2 separate regions of the Homo sapiens genome follow, and region 1 is linked to region 2. The links come from fine-mapping of genetic effects on gene expression. A gene starts in region 2. The other region holds a variant in brackets. All regions are shown on one strand. Distances are between the middles of the regions. Region 1 holds the start of LOC107986186 (a long non-coding RNA gene). Region 2 holds the start of CD38 (CD38 molecule).

The links. PIP is the estimated chance that this variant, and not a neighbour inherited with it, causes the effect.
Region 1: its variant is fine-mapped to the expression of CD38 in whole blood (TOPMed, PIP 0.91).

What each region holds. Positions count from the first base shown.
Region 1 is chr4:15,753,526-15,756,437 of GRCh38, reverse strand. LOC107986186 (a long non-coding RNA gene) reads left to right here and starts at 12. Exons shown (of 2, transcript XR_001741393.2): 1 at 12-114; 2 at 1,897-2,367. It also overlaps a transcript of BST1 not described here. The variant C/T (reference allele first, on the strand shown) is at 1,761.
Region 2 is chr4:15,776,802-15,779,713 of GRCh38, reverse strand. It overlaps CD38 (CD38 molecule), which reads right to left and starts at 1,386. Exons shown (of 8, transcript NM_001775.4): 1 at 1,067-1,386. The coding sequence starts at 1,299. RefSeq lists silencers at 628-677, 868-917 and enhancers at 1,048-1,547, 959-1,601.

The sequences.
Region 1 (2,912 bases), 23 kb after region 2:
AAACACATCTCACCCCCAGACCTGCCATTGGCATGCACATCTTTAACCACAAACCACGATTGAAAATGAGAAAGAAAACTCTCCTCTAGCTGGGCGCTTCATAGGACTAGCCAGGTACGACCATCTCTGAGGGTCTTTGACAGCTCAGTTTTACTGCATAATCTGTTTTCAAGACCCTTTAAAAGACCAGATTGTCTAGTACTTTTCTTTTATGAGAAGAGCTTCCCCCAACCCACCCTGCAGTCTTTTAGCAAAAACACCAGAAAGTCGGTTTTTCCCCCTTGTTTTGTTGTTGTTTTTGTTGTTCATGGTGGTGTGTTTTGTTTGTTTCAGTTTTATTTTTTCAAATTCCATGGTTATTTTCAAAATGAAGATCTAGCTTACAGTGTAATTTTTAAGTTTATGTTTATGTTGCAGAGACTGGGAGAACTGTTTAGTCACCACCTTGAGAACCTTAACATCATCTATCAGTTTACATGGTACTTGCCCTGTGGAGGAACTCAGAGCTCTCAGATTGTTTTACCTTTATTCCCTGGAAGCTTTGGACTATTGGAATATAAGCTGGAATAAGAAACTCATTGATTTGAAATTGGAGTGAAGTGATTATCTGTCTAATAACCCAATGGTTAAGTTTTTTTTTTCAAATAGGGTTTTCAGAGTACACAAATGAGCACACACTCACACACTCACAGATGCATAAACACTCTAAGACCTTCATCACTGGTGGTAACCACCACTCTACATTGACTGAAGGTGACATCTGGACTCAGCATTTCTTTTTTCTTTGGGGCTTTTCACCCATAAATAATATGCAGTTGTTCAATTCATTGCTAAACTACAGAGATCCAGTGAAGAATGAATACATTAATATTGCAAATGCATTTACTCTTTGACTCACTGACCCCATTTCTAGGAATTCAACCTACAAATATCTCTGCCCACATGAAAGATAATAAATATACCAGATTAGTCATTGCAGCATTGTTTATAAGAGAAACTGGCGCCAGGCACGGTGGCTCATGCCTGTAATCCCAGAACTTTGGGAGGCCAAGGCGGGCGGATCAAGAGGTCAGGAGTTCAAGACCAGCCAGACAAACATGGTGAAACCCCATCTCTACTAAAAATACAAAAATTAGCCAGGCGTGGTGGTGCACACCTGTAATCCCAGCTACTGAAGAGGCCGAGGCAGGAGAATCACTTGAACCTGGGAGGCGGAGGTTGCAGTGAGCTGAGATTGCACTACTGCACTCCAGCCTGGGCGACAGAGTGAGACTCCATCTCAAAAAAATAAAAAAATAAAAAAAAGAGAAACTGATTGCAAACAACCTAAATGATGTTCCTAACGGGGTGGGTTAAATAAATTACAAAACATCTCTCCCATGGAATATTATGCAGCTGTAAAAAATAAAGTGAGGGATCTCTGTATGTATTGATACAGAATAATCTCCAGGATGTACTATTAAGGAGTACAAAGTATTTTGTGTTTAATGCTTCCTTTTGTGTAAGAAAAGGTAGGGAGTAATAACATGTATTTGTATGTGCTTGTGCAAAGAAACCCTAGACAGATCTACATGAACTTTAAACAAGTGGTCATCCGAATTAGAGGTGTGGGACCAGAACAGGGGACAGGAGTGGGAATGAGATTTTTTCATAGTGTTTTATTTTTAAGCCATGTGTATATACTACCTTTTCAGAAATAACATAAAAATCACCAAATGTAAACTAAAACAAATCTACGTACTTAAATTACAAAAATGGAC[C/T]GCTGGGAAAGAGCCCGTTTTTTCCATCTTTTCAGGCATGCTTATCAAATACTTCATCAGTTGGAAATTCAACAAAATAAAGTATGTGTGCAGCTACATCTGACGTTGATTCTTTATCTCATTCAAAACCACACAGTGCTGACAGCAACATCCTTCCTCTCAGCATTCATGCTTCTGCTACCACCCAGGGGCACTGAGTTCACAGCCAGCTCACAGAAGGTAAGAAACTGCACACAACCCTTAGAGAGGAGACAATCTTAGACATGTGCATGCTTCAGAGAACATCTGGAAATTCTGCAATGTTCCTGAACTCAACATACCCCTGTTTCCTTGGGTTCTTTTAGGCCAGTTTTCACAATGGGGTCACACTAATCCTCACAACCTCTACTTTAGCGACTCATGAAGCCTCTATTGTTCTGCAGAACACCATCCCCTTTCAAAGAGCCTCCCTCTCAATATTTCCGGGGGTCTTCGTGGGGATTATCACATCTGCACTTGAAAAAGCTGCCCACAGTCCCACAGGCCTCCATCGTGGTTTTCCTCTCTTTTCAATCTCCACTGATGATACACACGAAGAAGCTGTGGCCTCACACCCCCCCACTTGGCCTTCCAGATCTTCCAGCCTCTCCCTTTGGCTCTCTGCCCTGGATCCAGCCCCAGGAGGCTCTCCCAAAGGAAGGAAGGTGACTGAGGTCCGGTTATCCATTCCCTCAGCTGGCTTCCTCCCTGCAGGGTTGCCTCAGGCCACTGGGTTCCTTGACAGAGGCCACTGCTCTTCTCCAGATGACCTCTCCATGGGACTCTCTCCTTCCGGATTCCCATGACCTCCCTGTTGCCTCACTCTGTGAGGCCTTGGTGCATCTCTGTACACATCAATGGTTTGCAGATAGTCCCTATTAAACCTCCTCCGATTTTCCTGATTTGAGTGTGCTATCTGTGTGTCTGGATGGGCCCTGACCGATTTGGACTCTCCCTGCCTGCAAGGCAGTTTATGTATGTCCCATCATTGCCTTTGGTGGGCACCATCTCTGCGAACCTCCAGCTGTGCCATGGCTGGGCCACACTTTGAGAGCTGGGTCCTATCCCAATACTGTTTGTGGCTCTGTGTCTCGTAACATTCTTAAAGACCCTACTCTTTCTCCTTAGGGCTCA
Region 2 (2,912 bases):
GTTTCTCTCTCCATTAAGTATCTAATTATGTGTAAATAGAACAACTAACGGGACGCTGGGAAGCCCAGGAGGCAAACATTTTGCAACCGGAACTGTTGAGTGTGCTCGGAGAGGCGAGGGAGGTCTATTTGCTCGTTTCCTCGGATTGCTTAAATGCGGGATTTTGCTATCCCAAAGCACAGAGTGTAAAGTAGCAGCTCCCCCTGCCTGCCTTCCCGGCTTCTTCTGTTTTACAAGCAACGATAATTTCCCGGTGAAAGCGAGGCCTGGGAATCAAATCCAAAAAGTGGTTGTTCCCTTTAGGAGAGGTTAGTAGCTGGAAAGGAGCATGAGAAAACTGGAAGGTCCCATAGACTAATGTGTTTTTTTTCCAAGGTTTGTACAGATTCACCGAGTTGCTGCGCCTTATCATCTAAGTAATGTCTCGGTTTTAGAAGTTGACATTGTTTTGTTAATTACTTCTCTGGTCACATGCATTTCAGGCCGCGCAAAAAGAATCGGAGTGCTGCTTTATATAAATGAATAAAACTAAGTTCCGTGGTTTGGCCCTTCTACACCCTCCTCCCCTACCACAGGCTTTGCAAACCACTTAAGTGTCCTCTGTAACCGTCCGGGGGCACTTTCGGGTCAGAGACAGCGGGCGGAAACCGCAGAAAAAGTTGAAAATGTCAGCGACACCCTGCATCTGCGAGTTCTATTCCGTCCCTGAAGCGGTGAAGCGGGCTGAGCGCGCCGAGGGTGGGCTGCAGCCCGGCGAGGGGCTGGGCTCAGGGCACCTTGCCCAGAAGGCGGGCATCGGTGCCAAGTGTTCACCGGCTACGCAGCAGAGCCACCGAGCAGCGCCCCCCCCCGCCTCCCGCGGGCACGCTCGGTGCCAAGGCCAGCTGCTCCTGAAAGCGGCCCGCGGAGCCCCGAGCCCGGGACTCCCTACTCAGCACCACCCGGCGGGCTCTCGGCTGACCCGCCACGGAAGATGCCCGGTTCCGGGCGATCCGGGCGGCTTCCCTGCGCGCGGGGCCCTGCTGTCCCCGCAGTGCCCACCGGTGCGCCTTAGTCGCCAACCCACCTCATCTCAGGATGAATTTCAGTGTACTTGACGCATCGCGCCAGGACGGTCTCGGGAAAGCGCTTGGTGGTGCCCGGACCGCTCCACTGCTGGCGCCACCTCGGGACGACCACCGCGAGCACCACGACGAGGATCAGGACCAGGATACTGACGCCAAGACAGAGTTGGGCTCTCCTAGAGAGCCGGCAGCAGGGTTTGTCCCCGGACACCGGGCTGAACTCGCAGTTGGCCATAGGGCTCCAGGCGGGGTTGGCTGGGCGAAGATGAGGCCGGCAGGAGGCTAGGCAGCAAGAGAGAGGCTGGCTGGGTTCTGAAACTGCACCTCCCCTTCTGTTTCACTTGCCTTTTCTCTGTTTCCCTTCCCACCCCCAACCCCTTGCCTCAGAGTTCCGTGGCTGGTTACACCAATAAGAGTTTAAAAGACCAACAACTATAGGCTCCTGTGCAGTGACCCACCCACTCCACCTCCAGGGAGAAACAGCCACCTTAATCCTCTGCAGGTGTCCTAAGGGGGCAGACAGTACATCCTTATACTCCCTCCGCTAACTCCCTTCATCAACCGGGCACTTTACACCTGAGCCACATTTGCTTCCTGGAAAGCATGAGGGTGGGCTGCCTGCTTCTATACGTGTGTGCACACAATGCCCTCTGCCTGGAAAAGGATGTCCTACCTCTCTTTCTTAACTCTGACAAATGCCTGGTCAACCACCTTTAAAGACTCAACTTAAGTCTGACTCCTTCTCTCAAGAGGCATCAGTGGCTAAGCTCTGGGTTCAAATTTAGTTCTTGCTGGATGACATGGGGCAAGTTACTTAACCTCTCTGTACTTCAGATGTAAAGCCGGGATAGTAGCAGTACCTACTTCATGGGATTGTTACGAGGATTAAGTGAGTTAATATCTACAACGTGTTTAGCACAATACCTGGCACATGGTAATCACCCAGTAAATGTAAGTTGTTACTACCAGCTCTAGGAGCTGCTCAGAGATGCAATTTTATAGTCCATGGAATGTGTTTGAAGCAGGGTCTGGCACACAGTAATAATACTGCACTCTATGCGGGAGTTTAATAAATAATAAAGTGGCTTTTCTTGCCTCTTCTTTATTAAGAGAACATCTGTGACATTCAAGCAGAGACCTAAGTAATGTGAGCGATCAAGTCACCCAACTCCCTTGGGGCAAACATTTCCCAAGCAGAGGAAATGGCAGGTGCAAAGACTCTGAGGCAGAAAAGCTCTTGGCCTGTTCCAGAGCAGCAAGGAGGCCAATTGTAGTTAGGCTAGAGGGTTGAGGGAAACAGAACAGAAGTTCGGAAAGTAGCAGGAGACCAGATCACCCATAGCTCTGTAAGACAGGATGACTTTTTGGACTGTGTGTTTTATTTATTTTTTATCTTTTTTATTTTGTTTTAAGTTCTGGGATACATGTACAGGACGTGCAGAGTTGTTACATAGGTAAATGTGTGCCATGGTGGTTTGCTGCACCTATCAATCCATTGCTTAGGTATTAAGCCCCTCATGTTTTAGCTATTCTTTCTGATGCTCTCCCTCCCTCCACTCTCCCCAACAGGCCCCAGTGTGTGTTGTTCCCCTCCCTGTGTTCATTGTTCAGCTCCCACTTATAAGTGAGAACATGCAGTGCTTGGTTTTCTGTTCCTGTGTTAGTTTGCTGAGGATAATGGCTTCCAGCTCCATCCATGTCCCTGCAAAGGACATGATCTCGTTCCTTTTTGTGGCTGCACAGTATTCCCTGGTGTATATGTACCACATTGTCTTTATCCAGTCTGTCATTGATGGGCATTTGGGTTGATTCCATGTCATTGCTATTGTGAATAGTGCTACAATGAAC